Regions from separate parts of the Homo sapiens genome. Here region 2 is linked to region 1. Evidence: fine-mapped expression QTL. Tissue or cell type: putamen. Region 1 holds a variant in brackets; the other region holds the start of a gene. All regions are shown on one strand. Distances are from middle to middle. Region 1 holds the start of WIPF1-AS1 (WIPF1 and CHRNA1 antisense RNA 1). Region 2 holds the start of WIPF1 (WAS/WASL interacting protein family member 1).

The links.
Region 2: it holds the start of WIPF1, and the variant in region 1 is fine-mapped to the expression of WIPF1 in putamen (GTEx, PIP 0.93).

The regions. Positions count from the first base shown.
Region 1 is chr2:174,571,628-174,579,965 of GRCh38, forward strand. WIPF1 (WAS/WASL interacting protein family member 1) reads right to left here. Exons shown (of 8, transcript NM_001375834.1): 4 at 3,577-3,753; 5 at 49-819. It overlaps WIPF1-AS1 (WIPF1 and CHRNA1 antisense RNA 1), which reads left to right and starts at 3,600. Exons shown (of 2, transcript NR_199010.1): 1 at 3,600-3,802. RefSeq lists a silencer at 6,448-6,557. The variant G/A (reference allele first, on the strand shown) is at 3,961.
Region 2 is chr2:174,593,299-174,601,636 of GRCh38, forward strand. It overlaps WIPF1 (WAS/WASL interacting protein family member 1), which reads right to left and starts at 4,506. Exons shown (of 8, transcript NM_001375834.1): 1 at 4,303-4,506. RefSeq lists an enhancer at 4,529-4,708.

The sequences.
Region 1 (8,338 bases):
TTGGGCAGGCTGGGTTTTGGAAGCAACTCACTCCACGTCTTGTCATACCTGATCGGCCTGGCGGGTCCCTCACTGGAGGTGGGGGTCTCTCACTGGGCGGGGGAGGAAGAGGACCTGAACGTCCTGGCGAAGGTAACGGGGGCGTGGACGAACTGAGGGACAGATTCCGCTGTGGGAGTCTTGGGGTTTCGTCATTGCCGCTGGAACTTGGAGGCAGAGGAGGCGGCCCGGGCCTGCTGGGAGGTGGCGGCGGAGGTGGGGCCTGTGAGGAGGCCGAAGGCCGCGGAGTGGAAGGCACTGGAGGCTTGTTGTTCTGAGGAGGAGGAGGGGGAACCGCTTCCCTGTGGATGGAGGGCCTGTTGCCCACTGGAGGAGGTGGTGGAGGGGGTTTGTCATCCAAGGCCCTGCTGGGGGTAGGCGGCAGGGGAGGCCGGTTGGAGAAGGGCGAGGAGGAGCTCAAGGGGGACTGACGTATTGAGCCTCCTCCCAAAGCAGTGCCGCGGTTTCCAGGGAAAGGGGGAGGAGTGGGCCCGGGGCTGGGCTGCCTGGGGCCTCCGGGCACTGGTGGGGACCCCCGGTTGTGCGGACTTGATTGAATGGGTCTTGGAGTACTAGGTACTGGAGGAGGAATGCTATCAGGCTTTGAGCCCACGTCGGGCCTTGGGGGCGGCATTCGGTTCCTCTGAGGCTCTGGGGGACCACTTCTGTGGCCTGGAGAAGGCACAGGAAACCTCCCTGGGCCACTTGGGGGTGAAAAGGGTTTCGCAGATGTGGATCTTCCTCCCGGTGGCAACAATGGTGGTCGGCTTCCTCCAGAATCTGAAGAACAGGAAAACAAACATCAGTTAGGAAATCAGGAACCCTGAAGAAATCAGAGAGCTAGAGTCTGTTCCCAGTGACTGGAAGTCCCTTCCTCAGAGGGCTATAAAATACAGGAAACTATTATTTATATAAATTGGGTTTTGTTGGTCCTTCTTGGGAGCAGAAAATCGACCATAGCTCTATTTACCTGCGAGTCCCAACTTCTACAGCCTATGAGCTTTCAAAAGGATTCTGCAAATATCTCTTAGCATTATGTATAGGCAAGAGCCAGGATGAAGTGGGCGAGAGTTCTGGTGAGATGCCTATTCATTATGAGAGGACAAGAACAAGATGGCATTGGTAGAATCATGATTTTCATTTTTCCTCATCACCATCTCTGTCTCCCAGCCCTTGTACCTCTCAGTTTTGAAACTAAGTCAGCTGTCTTAGGTGAAAAAATTAATTATCCCAATGTAAATCTCCAAATGTGAGGGCTTATCTAGTCCCTATGAAGAGAAATGCCCCAAAAAAAGTGGAAAACTGTAAGGGGAAATTATAAGAAAAGAGTTATGACTGCAATAAGAAAAAACTAAGAAAGGAAAAAGAACCATCAGTAAAGTTTAATTGTAAGAGTTGACACCAGTGGATGGAATTCATCTACAAAGAAGCAGGCAACTACACAACTTTTTTTTGGTACCACGTCAACCTCTGCTTCAGTATTGGCAGGACAGAATAATCCCATAACTGCTCTGGTTCAACAAGGGAGAAACTAAAGGGGGAACCAAAGAGATGGAAAATTTCAAACCACCATCCCAGAATCTCTTGGAACTCAAGGTAATTCTGAAAAAAAAAAAAAAAATCTACCCATTTATGAGTTAATAAGTGTACCAAATAATTTTGAGCACTTGCTATGCGCCTGCCATTAATCTAGAGACTAGAGACAGAGGAGTAAACAGAATAGAAAAGATTCTGCATTCCTGTAGTTTACATTCTTGTGGGGGGAGATAAACAATAAACCAGGAAATAAATACTTTCAGATAATTATATGTACTAAAAAGACACTAAAATAGGCCGATGAGATCAAGAGTGCTTGGAGAGGCCAGGGTACATGGAGTGGCTGGGGACAGCTCTTCTGAGAATGTGACATGTGAGCTGAGGCCTGACAAGAAGGAGTCAGCCACGGAAAGATGAGGAAGACCAGCACTTTGGGCAGGGTTGGCCAGCAGGTGCAGAGGCCCTGAGGTGGGAAAGAGCTTCAAGTTCAAAAACGGGCCCATGTGCCCGGGGCACAGTGAGAATGGGAGAGATCCATGGGAAGTGGAGCCTGAGTGGCCAGCAGGGGTTAGTCACAAGGAGCCCTGCAGGACAGAAGGGGTTCCGATTTTATCTAAGGCACAGGAAGAAGCATTTGGACAGATGTATACAGTGGAGTATCATGAACTTAAGAGAGAACTTTCTTCTTCTTTTTTTTTTTTTTTTTGAGACAGTGCCTCCTCTGTTGCCCAGGCTGGAGTGCAGTGGTGCAATCACGGCTCATTGCAGCTTCAACTTCCTGGGCTCAGGCAATCCTCCCACCTCCGCCTCCTGGGTAGCTGCGACTACAGGCAAGAGCCACCATGCCCACTAACTTTTTGTTTTTTTTTAGTAGAGACAGGATTTTGCCATGTTGCCCAGGCTGTTCTTGAATTTTTGGGCTTCAGCCATCTGCCTGCCTTGACCTGTGAAAGTGCTGGAATTATAGGTGTGAGCCACCATGCCTGGCCCATTTTATTATTTTATTTTTCTTTGTCTTTTGCCTTAATTTCTTCACCTGTTGTTAAAGTACTAAATGTATACATTTATCAGCTGCCTTAAATCCTTTTGGTGAGTTTTAAATAAATTTAAATTCAAATTTAAATGGTGGTCTGGCAAGATAGAACCTCTCATGTGACTGAGTTTCTCTCTAGATTTGGACCATTCAGTGATAAAATAGTAGGCTAACCCTGAGGATTCAGTGATTCCATATTCATGTAAATGTGAGAGTTTCATTCTTTCCCAGGGGACATCTTATAAAAGGTCTAAAAATGAAAATTATTATAACATGATCAACATTACAAAAGCAGTTTTATGGTAAAATTTCTTGAGTTTCTGTAGTAGCTGGGAGAGAGCCTCATGCCCTCTGCAAAGTTTTTTATCTAGGCATTCATGAGCAAGTTCAGTTTTTTTCTACCATCAGGTTCATAGACAATCCTGAAGGACTCATGTCCATGGCTCCCTGCAGAGACTCCTGAGAACCACTGGCACTGAAATACCAAATATCTGTCATGCAAAACACTTTTTCAGATTTAGTGAGATTTGTAATCATATTCCACAAGATGTGCTCCATCGTGTTTGAAAAGCGGCTCACAAGTATTTACTCTACTAGACAGCTGGGCTACCTCACAAAGAAAGCTGAATCTGTCAGGTCACCAGGCAGATTTCCAGGGCCAGCAAGTTCTATTTGCTCCTCCCTTTTCTTCCCACTCCAGCTAACCCTTTAGAAAAGTAAAAAAAAAAAAATGTACAGGTTACCCCCAAAGACACTGGGTGAAAATTTCATAGTTCTGTGTAGCTGTCTGATCCTGGTTAATAATAATAATAAAGCCTAAATTGAGTCTCTTATAAAACAGTGGTAATATTTAAAACAATGTACAATATTTTAATAAGGGCGAAGAGCCTTAGAGGCTATGACCAGCCTCCAAACTGCCAAACTCTGCCTTGTCTTCAGTCACTCAGAGACAGGGAAACTCTCCTTACCATTATCCCTGTTGGCCGTGGATCTCAGCTTCGGCATTCCAGCCTGGAACAATCCTCCCAGACCTGGAGGTCCGCCCCCTCCAAAACTTCCACCGCCTCCGCCACCACCTCCTCCGCCAAATCCGCCGCCTCCACCAAAGCCACCACCACCGCCTCCAGCACCAGCTCCTTTAGGTTCTGTAGAAGAAGAGACACCCGACAGACTATGCCCCCTGGTCTGGCCCAGGTAAACCATAAAACAACAGTACAACAGGGAGCTGGCCGGCTCTCGGCCTCCAGTGGACAACTGGGATTTCTTCATTAAAATGCAGGATTTTAAGAGTTCCCTCAGCTCAGTCAGAACTGCCCGCTCCAGGCAGTCCCAAGCCCAGTGGTGGAAGAAAC[G/A]AAAATAAAGGATGATTTGTCCCCACACTCCCCACTTGACTGGCTGCCACATGGGTCAGTATCTGTTTGTTCCGTATCCTAAGATTTGGCAAATAGAAGGATCTTCAGGCTGGGTGCAGTGGCTCACACATGTAATCTCAGCACTTTGGGAGGCTGAGGTGGGAGGATCGCTTGAGCCAGGGAGGTCAAGACTGCAGGGAGCCAAGACTGTGCCACTGCACTCCAGCCTGGGTGACAGTGAGACCCTGTCTCAGTAAAAAGGATCTTCAAAGAAAGAGGGTCGCAAGGGAGGAGGAGATGCCATAAAAGGCGAGAAGAAAGGAAAGAGTTAAAAAGAAAAGAAAATAAAATATCTCATAATTTCACAAATATACAAATATCCAGGCTAGGCACAGTGGCTCACACCTATAATACCAGCACTTTGGGAGGCTGAGACTGGAGGATAGCTTAGGCCCCAGAAGTTTGAGACCACCCTGGGCAACAAAGTGAGACCTCGTCTCTACGAAAATAAACAACAACAACAAAATGTAGCCAGGCATGGTGGTGCACACCTGTAGTCCCAGCTACTTAAGAGGCTGAGTGAGAGGATCACTTGAACCCACTGAGGCTGCAGTGAGCTATGATTGCACCACTGCACTCCAGCAAAAAAAAAAAAAAAAAAACACTAAGCAAATATCCACAATTGAGTTATACTTTTTCCCATCAGTATTTTTCATTTTATGTGTTTTTTCTTAAAATTAAGAACAAATTCACTAAGCAGTATTAAGCCTGCTTTTTTCATTTAACACTTTGTTAGCACTTCTTGTGTCATACTCTTTGAAAACATGAGTTTAAAGGATTCTATTGTATTGTAGAACATGAATGTATTACATTAAAATTTATTTAACTACTCATTTGATGGCCCTTTAGATTGCTATTAATTTTTTAATATCATGAAGCCCAATAGTAGGCTTTAGTAATTTAAACATTCTTTGCAATTTGAGAGGGTATAAAGATCTTGTTTTATTTTGAATTTATCTGCAAAAAATTGTGAAAGATTTTGATGGGAGGCAAACAAACAAACAAACAAAAAGATTACTGAGTATTCTGTCTAGTCTTCTGGGTTACTTTCCATTGTCTTTGAGCCACAGTATCTTATCACTCTGAAAGGCATAGAAAACTGATACTAATGCAATGGTATTTGTCCAAAGAAGTGCAAATTAGTTGTGTTTAAGCCATGCTTATACCCTCTTTAAAAAAATTATCTCTTAATTTATGTATGTATGCATGTTTGTATTTATGAGCTTAAACATTATTTAAAGTCCTCTTCCCAAAAAACTATGTTGAGTTTTTGATAAATAGTATATGAAATCTACAAATTAATCTGGGAGAACTGATACTTTTATGATATTTAGACTTTCCATTTGGAGATGTGGTATATTTTCCCATTTATTTATGTCTTCTGGATTTTTTGGCAAAGTTTTTTAGTTTTTATGATATACATTACACATGCTTTTTGTTAGGGTTACTTCAAATGTATTTTTGTTTGCTGAAATTGTGAAAGGGATGTTTTTCCTGTTATATTTTGTAATTGGTTATTTTTGGCACCAGGAAATTGTATTTAATATCTAATAAGCCACTTTGCTATGTTTTCTAAATAAAATTTACTAAAAATGTATTATCTTGCATTTTCTAGTATGCACATGGTCTTCAAATAATGACAGTTTAAAGCCTCCTCTTCTCTAAGAGTTGTATGTCTTATTTCTGTTTTATATAAGTAATTACTTTGATGGGTAAATTTCCATAACAATGTAAATTATTAACGTTTCTAAAGGCAATCATGTTCTGATATTAATGAGAATCCCTCTGATATTTCAAAGTTAATATGAATTATTGGTTTGAAATAGGTTTTTTCCCTTTCTAAATATTCAGTCTGTGGATCCTTCTATTTTAGGTTTACAAGAATTTATTATAGCATGAAATTTTATCAAATGCCTATTCAAGATCTACTGAGGCTTTTTGATGGTCTTTTTTATTTGATATGATGGATAGACTTTCTAACATTAAAAATGGGATAGGCCAGGTGCAACGGCTCACACCTGTAATCCCAACACTTTGGGAGGCCAAGGCGGGTGGATTGCTTGAGCTCAGGAGTTCAGGACCAGTCTGAGCAATATGGTGAGATTCCCATCTCTACAAAAAATGAGCCAAATGTGGTGGTGCATGCCTGTAGTCCCAGCTAGTTGGGAGGCTGAGGTGGGAGGATCCCTTGAGCTTGGGAGGTCAAGGATGCAGTGAGCTGTGTTCATACCATTACTCCAGCCTGGGTGACAAGACAAGACCCTGTCTCCAAAAAAAAAAAAGGGGGATAAACCCTGGTGTTGGTGAATTATTCTTGTAACATCTGATTGATTTAGATTTGTTTTTTGGTATTTTAGTGTTCTCTTATCTATGATGATAAGTGGTCCATAATAGGGTTTCTTAATTATAAACATTTTGGGACAGATAATTCTTTTTTGTGGGTGGCTGTCCTGTCCTGTTCTTTACAGAATGTTTACAGCATCCCTGGCCTCTACCCACTAGATGTCAGTAGCAGCCCTCCCTGTCCCCCAAAGTAGTGACTAAAAATGTCTTCAGACATTGCCACATATCCCCTGGAATGCAAAAATCACCCTCAGTTGAAAACCACTAATGTACAGCTTTCTTTTTTTATGTGCTGCCTTTGTCAAGTTTTGACATTAGGATCATGCCAATTTCATTACAATTATTAGACAGCCTTCCATCTCTTAATATATTGGGGAATGACTTATACAGCATTTGAATTAGCTGTTTCTTAAAATTTGAAAGAATTTGCTAATAAAATAATCTGGCTCCAAAACTTTTTGGAGAGAAAGTAATTTAATAAAGTTTTTATCTTTTCCCTTGCTCATTGAGGTTTCCTGAATAAATATATGCTTTTCTTAGAAAAGTACTTTCTTTAATATCTTAAAACATTTTAGCAGATAACTTTATTACACTACTTTAATTTTAGAAAATATGCTTTGAATCTCTTATTTTATCTGCTTTCTGAGTTCCACTTTTATTCATTTTTATTTCCATTTTCTGGATTAGGTTTATCATAAATTTGTGTTAGTTCTGTATCTTTTCTAGATGTGGAGCTTTCTGAGATGCTTATGGTAGCTCTGCTGTGGAAGAAATAATCTGATAATAACTGACAAGAATTACTTCACCTAACAGGATAAATCATATAAGACTAACAATTTCTAGAAGTGTATGCAAAATTGTTTCCATATAAAATTTAAAAATTTTGCTATTAACATCGCCCTTGTCATTCAAACACTATTCATTGATGAATGACACATTTTGGAATACTGCACTTCACAGGACACGTTTACATGGTACTGAAACTTTAGAGGGACTCCTGCACTATCAGACATCACCCATTACTGTTCTTTTTTTTGTTTTTTTGAGATGGAGTTTCACGCTTGTTGCCCAGGCTGGAGTACAATGGCACGATCTTGGCTCACTGCAACCTCTGCCTCCTGGGTTCAAGCGATTCTCCTGCCTCAGCCTTCCAAATAGCTGGGATTACAGGCATGCGCCACCACACCCGGCTAATTTTGTATTTTTAATAGAGATGGGGTTTCTCCATGCCTCAGGTGATCCCAGCCTCAGGTGATCGACTTGCCTCAGCCTCCCAAAGTGCTGGGATTACAGGTGTGAGCCACTGTGCCTGGCCCATTAGTGTTCTTAACCTGCAACATCTGTCCATCTTTCAGAAAGAGAAGCTAAAGCTGAGGATTAAGCTTTCAGATTATTTTTTCAGTAATTAAACTGTAGGACAGGGCTGAGTTATCACACATAACCATGGTCAACATTTTGACATACAGCCCAGGGAAGTTTCACATGCAAACAGATACAAAACTGTGGATAAACACTGCTGCTTGCAAAGAGCTTGTGACAGCAGTATAGGTGTCCAGTTGAGTGTGTGGACAAGGGCCTGCACTGGACTGTATCTTCCTTCCATCAAGGAAAGCACATTATTAAACATCATGGAAGAGAGAAGGACTAACACTATTTCCATTAAATAAGAGAAGTGGACATTGAAGAATACAATTCTTCAAGGTTTCCACTAGTGGATTCAGGAATAGGTCTAGACTGTCCAGCCTCCTTCAACAGAGCCCTAGGCTCCCTCTTGCAGTGAGGAGAACCACAGGCCTCTGTCCTAGAGGTCAGCTCCTCTGGCCTCATACCAGGGACCATGATTCAGATGGCTATTGGAGGGCTTGGAGGGCTGAGGGATTAGAGGGAATATATTATAACCACATTCGTTTTGTGGGCATTTTGACTTACAAGTCAGACTGTGTCAAGAGTTAAATACCTTAGTTCCTTTTTTTTT
Region 2 (8,338 bases), 22 kb after region 1:
ACAAAATTTATAATACATGTAACACAAAAGTGTTTTCCTGAGAAAAGGTTTTTAAATTCATATTGAGTTATTACAACCATAAAAAATAACTGCAAGGGCATTCATTACAAAGACAGTGAATCCACTCCAAGTCACCCTGCAAAAATAAAATCATCGAGCAAACTCAAATTGCTGCTAAGACGGTGAATTTTAAAAAGCATGTCGTTTTGGGATTCCTACTCAATTATTCTTGATTCTATTCTTTAGATACTCCTCCATGATGCAAACTTAGCTGGATGTATTTAAGATCTGAAAACCATTAGAACTAATTAAGATGAATTTGGCTTTGTTCTTCAACTTCCTGTAAAAAATGCTCAACAGGAAAATTGATGCTCGCAGTAAACCACAGTCATCCTGTTTCTTTAACACAATCTTTTCACAGCTGCAGTTGCCTGGAGTTTCTATTTTATGACGCGAGTCACTGCAACAGCTCTACCATCCCTTCCCCCCAGCATGTGGTCTGGCCATTTTAGAAACTTTCAATACCTTTGCAGAAAGGTTCGTTTCTATTATTGCTACTCTTCCTCTCTCCAAGCTGAAGGTCCTTGCTCAGAGCAATAAGCCATGGATACAAGAGGGGAAACAGAAAAGGCAGCTGGACTCCAGAGGAAGCAAAAGGCAGAGAAGAGGAAAACAGCTTTATTAGCAAATCAGCAGCCTCACCCAGTTGGTTCTTATGCATTGTTAGTCTCCATTTGAGCTGAATGTGGAGCACACGCTTGCCATACACAGAATCCCTCATTTCTCAAAATGTACTGCTCTTTTCTCAGTCAATCATCATTGAAAAACAATACTTCAGCAACGTCTGATTAGGTTGTCTTCTTAATGGTAAATGTCAATTTAAGTCTGCTGAACCTAGAAATGCTTCTTTTATAGTTCTTTTAGATAAGGAGGTGATTTATTTTGGCGGGGAGTAGGAAAGGTGTTTTTCAAAGAAGACATTTTGAAGCATCTCGAACATCACTAAGACTGGCTAGGAGCTTGGACACAATTTTACTGCAAGAGTACTGCTAGGGAAATAAAGGTTGCTATGAAGTAAAATTATTTTTTAATCCACTATTGTGCACATTTAATTTTAAAATTAATACAAATTCACAGACATCGAAGACCCTTTTAATAGTGAGAAAATGAAGGTGAGCTGAATGACACGCCTACCTGTCATTATTTAACTGAAGGAAAGGGAAAGGAAACATTTTTATTTTATCCATATAATTAAAGAGTAGCAGGTTTTCTCCCATACTTCCCATCTCTTTAAGGGGTTCAAATCTCCAAGCTAAAATCTGCCTAAATCGCTATCACCACATTTAGTTCTACCAGAGGATTAAGATGTGCCACTGTTTCTCTCTCTCTCTTTCTCTCTCTCTCTCTCTCACACACACATACACACACAGCATATATGTCAGCACACTTGATATATACTGTATTCATTTTATCATTGAAAGTACAGCTTTATGATATAAGCAGAAGTGTCACCAAGTTTACCTCTGAAGAAGTGAAAAGACTTAAAAAGGAAAATATCTTACTTGAGATTGTTAGTTTTAAAGATATTTACTGTTGCTGTGACATTTAAAGCAAAACATTTGTAATCTCAGATTCCCAAGGCCGGAAAAGCACCTCAAGAAATCATACTGGCTGGGTGTCGTAGCTCATGACTATAATCCCAGCACTCTGGGAGGCCAGGGTGGGAAGATAGCTTGAGCCCAAGAGTTTGAGACCATCCTGGGCAAACATAGTGGGACCCTCATCTCTACAAAAAAAAAAAAAAAAAAAAAATATATATATATATATATATATATATATATAATTAACTGGGCATGGTGGCACACATCTGTAGTTCCAGCTACTTGGGAGGCTGAGGTGGGAGGACTGCTTGAGTCCAGGAGTTTGAGGGTGCAGTGAGCTGTGATCATGCCATTGCACTCCAGTGTGGATGACAGAGCAAAACCCTGTCTCAAAAAAAAAAAAAAAAAAAACAGAAAAGAAAAAGAAAAACAGAAATCATACAATTTATAATGTTGCTTCCAAGCTGCACTTGTGAAAAAAAGCTCTTACAATTCAGATAACTTCCTCCACATTTAGTTGTTAGGTGGCCTTGGGTAAATTACTTAGCTTATGTAAGTCCGGTTTTCAAAATAATAGCACCTACTTAGTAGGGTTATTCAAGAGTTAAATGAAGGAGTGCTTAATAAGTATTAGCCATTTTCAAAAAATAAAATAAGCAAAGGTGAAGAACGTAACACAAAATAAGTGGTCAGTAAATATCACAGTCTTTCCCCCTATTTAACCACGAGAAAGAGAAACCATGAGCTGATTTAAATCAGCCTATGTGTGTACACCCATGCAAACTTCCATATTACAAGTGAATGGTGAAGGGAGATGTGTATAAAGTGCATTTCAAATTTCTCAGAAAAGCATACTGATTAAGGCATTCCTTATTCTAGTATTTTTTTACAGTTTTAATTTTCAGGACAGACAGAGGTATTTATGGAAGTCCAGGAGAAATGCTTTCTTCAACAACAAGCACATGTTTAACAATTTGGACAAAATGAGTCAAACCTTAAAGCAGAAATATATCATAATTTAAACAGCCAGAAACTTCCAAAGTAAATGATGTGTGTTCATAAAATGTTAAGAAGGCTTCAAAAGGTCATAACACTTAAAGGGTCCAGGAATTCAGTATCACTTCATCTCATATTTTAGGTAGGCTGGGGAACTTCCAGCCTACAGGCCAGATTTAGAATTTGATCAGATCTGAAGTTGCTGCTCGATCCCAGGAACTAATTTTCACCACAGGGAGTTCTCTGAATATTTCAGTCCACCCAGAGTATGTGTAACCCTTAAAAGGTTAGATATTAGAGTAGCTGAAGCGCTATGAGCAAATAGCCCATGAATAAACTTTTCAAAGAGCAATAGAAAACCTGACTTAGTGAAAAATGACTTTCAGGTAAGTCATTTAATGACCTTAGACTGATAAAAGGAAGAGTTTTGACATGATGATATTCCAGTACAGAAGAACAAAGCTTGATAAAGTTAACACATAGCACTGTAGTCCAAGTGAATTGTAAGAGTATGATTTCCACACAGATCAACCTCAAAACCTTTTCCCAGTTTCTCATCTTCCTTTCTCACTGTCCTGTCCTATTCTTTCCCCAGTCTTTCATCTTTCTCTCTACCAAGCTGTCTTACTTTGCTTAGTTAGAATCTTTCAGTAGCCTTTTCATTTACCACCTCTCCATTCTCTACTACATATACTAGTTATGCCATTAAATTATTTAAAATAACTTGTATGCCTGTAATCCCAGCACTTTGGGAGGCCGAGGCGGGCAGATCACTTGAGGTCAGGAGTTTGAGACCAGCCTGACCAACATGATGAAACCCTGTCTCTACTAAAAATACAAAAACAAAAAAAACAAAAAACTTGTACTTAGTGACTAAAGTTATATGTGCCTTCTGAGTTTTTTAAAGCTTTATTTTATATTTCTTCACGGGGAGAAAGGAACATAAGTCAAATTGTTTCTTCCTACATATTCTAGAAAAAAGTTTTTTAATGTAAAAAGTTTCCTTAGTTCTGCTCTATAAGCCTCTGAGTAGATGGCTTGAAATTTTAAAAATCACAATATTTTATGCCAAAACATTAATCATATTAAACATAAAGTTATAACTAATGCTGTAGAATTTGATTTGCGATAGTAATTGTGCACACACTGTTATAACAGGAATAGACTTATTCTAAAAGACAAATCGTATTATAAAAGACTCTGCTTAGAAATGGTTTAGTTTGAGTTTTGAACTTAAATAGCACATTGGCAGCAACAGAACTGCAACAGCTTAGTTCCATGGTATTTTCGTTTGAAGCTTCCAATGGCTCCTTGTACTTTAAAGCACTTATTGTTGCTGGCCACACCAAAGATTCAAAGGCAGTTGTGTGGACAACTGTATCATACACCAAAAGGATATATTTACCGACATAAGCCCCCAATTTAAATGGGAAAATAAATTCCTGTGGATCCAAACTTGTCCAGTGGTCAAAAAAATTCTATTGAAAATCTTGCTTACATTTTGGCTCAAAGCATAAGTTATGAATCATTCACAATCACCATAGTGGTGAAACTAGCATTCTGGGCAACAGGAATAGCTCACATGGTGCTCTACAGAAAAATTAAACAACTTTATCTTGACATACTATGGTCCATTAAAAGCCATTTAGTTCTTCCCTGTAGCTGATAAATGAAATAAACTTAGTTTGAATATAATTTTTCTTACCGTTAAAGGGTACTGCAGGGAGCCATGGTCAGGGACACAGGCAGACAGAGGGCCAGCGGGACAGGAGCCAAGAGAGAAAACTGTCCCTGAAAAAGGTATCATCTTCTAACGCAAGTGTGGGGTCGTTTTTGGACAGCCATTTTGGACAAGCTCTGGCCTCTTGTTAAATGTGACATACTGAGTCAGAGGCAGACGTCCTTCTGTGGTTATTCGCTTCCTGTCTGATTAATTTGTTGTTTGTTGTTCCTTCCTCCTTTGCTGCAGAAAAAGAAACTAGATTGGTTTTGCTTAAGAAGCAAGCAAGAAAAAAAACCTAAATTAAAAAAAATTAAATGTTTCTCCTCCCCACAAGGTGTAATACACAGCTATTTGGTACAGTGACAAGAGGAGATGAGCACCTCCACTCAGTGAAGAGTCCAACTTTATTCTAGATATTCCCACAAAAATAACTGTTCATGGAACTTGAGATTCCTTTAGGAAAATTATATTTGAAAGTATCACTGTAAATACTGACTATTCCATTGAGTAATAGGGAAAAGAGTCACTCAAGAAAGAAAAGCTCTTACCTACCTTACCTTATCGCTTCATTAGGCTAAGGGCTTCTTCTCATTTACAGGGCATTCAAGTGTGTGGGGAGAAAGTTACAAATGCAGGTAAAGAGAGCAGGTCAGGTGTATGAAGGCAAATGAGGTTCTTTTTTTGGTTTTGTTTTATTTATTTCTTTTTTTTTAGAGAGACAGTCTTGCTGTCACTTAGGCTGGAGTGCAGTGGCGTAATCATAGCTCCCTGTGGCCCTGACCTCCTGGGTTCGAGCAATCCTCCAGCCTCAGCCTCCTGAGTAGCTGAGACTACAGGCATATGCCACTGCACCTGGCTAATTTATTTTATTTTTATATTTGGTAGAGATGGGATCTTGCTTTGTTGCCCAGCCTGGTCTTGCACTCCTAGCTTCAAAGTGATCCTTCCATCTTAGCTTCCCAGATTGCTGGGATTACAGGCTTGAGCTACCATACTTGGCAGCAAATGAGTTTTGAAACGTGATTTTGGTGCCCAAGTCAGGGTAATAATATACAGCTTAAGTCAGCTGCAGATCCATAGCTTTCTATGCCAAATGTTTCTGTCCCCCACACTTAATGGGATAACAGTAACTCTCCTAGAAGATGCTTGACAAAAGCATAGAGATAAAGAGGGTGGAAGGAAGAAAGTCAGATTTCTCATTATTAAAGAACTCAAGAGGTGGATGGCAATGGAATACATGTAGAAAACATTTTATCAAAACCTTGAGTTATGTATAGAACGATCTGAAAATGCTCATAATTTTTTCTTAACCCATCTTAAAGGTTCAGACTTACATATGCAACACATAGTATATAACTCTGAGAAAACAGTAACAGTCAAAGAATTTAAAAGAGAGGCATATTTCAGAAACTAGCTTCATTGTAAAATCTGAATGTTGGGTCCTGATTCTGCTAGGATCAGAGGCCAGAGGCATGAAAAGAACGTATGTTGTCTAACATTGCCTTACCTGTAAAGTGATGGAACTGGGCTAGATGAGTAATTTTCAACTCAGGTAGCTGTTGGGGGTGGTGAGCAGTGAGTGGGAATGGTGGGGGCAGGGGCCTGTAGCATTCAGTGGGTGGGGCCAGGAATGGGAAATTTCCTATGGTGCTTATGACAGTCCCACCCAAAATACCAGAAGTGCTCCTACTGGGGAGTACTGGGACAGATGATGTCTAAGGATCTTTTAAACTCAAAATTCCCTGAGATAGGAGTCTAATTGCATGAGCAGATTCATGATGCCAGGCCATGGGCACAGTTCCTGGAGTGGAGTACCCAAGAATAAGTGACTGAGAGTCCTCTGCTTTGCCTGGAGCCCCTTGAAGGCAGGGACCGCCTCTTGTCTAACTCTGGCCTGGTGTCCACCCGTGACTTAGGTCACAAATAAATACCTGCAGGCATGGGGCTGGACAGAGGTGGAGGCCTACAGCTATCAGCCACTTCCCGCGATACAAACCCTCAGGAAAACAGAAAACTTGATCAACTATTAAGTAAATGCCTGAGTGAATCTTTGGGGAAGTCTAATTATAGTTGGGTCTAAAAAGAGAACATGGGCGATATGACAATTTCTCTACGTATTTTCAGAATTATTTTGAAGTTCTCTAAGTAAGACACCCCAAACACACACACACACACTCTCTCTCTCTCTCTCTCTAGCTATCTCTCTCTCTCTCTCTCTCTCTCAGTACACATACCATTCATGGCTATTTCCATCCCTTAGGGGAGTGGTCCCTAACCTTTTTGGCACCAGGGACTGGTTTTGTGGAAGATAATTTTTCCACGGAGTGGGGGCAGGGGGTGGGGATGGTTTCAGGATGAAACTGCTCCAACTCAGATCATCAGGCATTAGATTCTCATAAGGAGCTCGCATGCACAGTTCACTTTAGGATTCTTGCTCCTCTGAGAATCTAATGCGCAGCTGATCTGATAGGAGGCAGAGCTCAGGAGGGAACACTTGCTCACCAGCTGCTCACTTCCTGCTGTGTGGCCTGGTTCCTAAGGGGCCATAGACTGGTTGGAGACCCCTACCTTAGGAAAAGCTCACTTAGAAGGGAGTATGTCACCTAGAAGGCTGCAGTCCCCAAGACATGCAAGGGAGTAGTTGTGTAGTTTGAGTCTATTCCTACAGTCAACTTTGGACACATTTATCAGGTGTCTACTATGCATGTTAGGACATAAATTAGATAATGTTCCTCCCCTGCTTAAAACCCTCCAATGACTTCTCATTTCACTTAAAAAGTCCAAACTCTTAGGTCCACAGGGACCCACGAGATCTGGCCCCTCCTTAACTCTCTGCCTTCATCTCAAGTAATATTCTGCCTTGCTAATTTACCTTCCAAATCTTTCTGTTCCTTAAATGCACCAAGCTCATTTGCATCTTCAGGCCTTTTACTTGCAAGCCTGGTACTCACGCCTGGTACACTCATCTTTTTGTTCCTTTTTATTCTTCAAATGTCAGCAAAAATGCTCTCCCTCATGACCCATTTCTGCTGTTTTCTTTTATGCATAGCATGCGTCACCGCTTGACACTGTCTTATTTATCTGTTTATTTACTTGTATGTTTCTCTCCACTAGAATTCAAGCTCTATGAGAGCAGGGACCTTGTCCATCTTGTTTCTGCTGTTGCTTCAGCATCTAATGCAGGTGTTTGACTGCTGTTGCTTCAGCATCTAATGCAGGTGTTTGAAAATAGTGTTTGTTGAATGGAAAAGAAAATCAATGTTTCTTACGAATTCTACTACAGCATAATGTTCCTTTTTTTTTTTTTTTTTTTTTTTTTTTTTTGAGACAGAGTCGTACTCTGTCACCCAGGCTGGAGTGCAGTGGCATGACCTTGGTTCATTGCAATCTTCACTTCCCAGGTTCAAGCGATTCTCATGTCTTGGCCTCCCTAGCTGGGACTACAGTCGTGCACCACCACGCCTGGCTAATTTTTTTTTTGTATTTTTAGTAGAGACGGGGTTTCGCCATGTTGGCCAGGCTGGTCTCCAACTCCTGGCCTCAAGTGATCTGTCCACCTCAGCCTCCCAAAGTGCTGGGATTATAGGTGTGAACCACCACGCTGCCCAGCATAATGTTCCTTTAAAAGCTTAAGACTGTTCCCCCTGAAATGGTAAATAACAAATGCCAAGACTAGACTTAAGCCTTCTTGGGAGAAGCTGTTAAAGGGAAATTTTCCAGAGAAAAGGTCAGCAGGTAAAACCCTTGGCCCATCAGTGGGCCTGGCAGTGCAGGCAGAGTCTTATGCAGTGCAGGTGGCTTACACCATTGGGCAATGTGAAGAGAAAAATGGATTAAGAAAATTGAAAACAAATAGAACAATCAGAAAGGAAGGGGGGGAAATAAAAAGATAAAGAAAATAAGGCAAGAAAAGCTGGAGATGGGGAGAGATCATGTGGTGGGTAGAGGAGAGCTACAACCACACTGCTGACCTCAGAGGCTTTGGAAGCCACCTCTGCAGTGGATGACCCACAGGTGC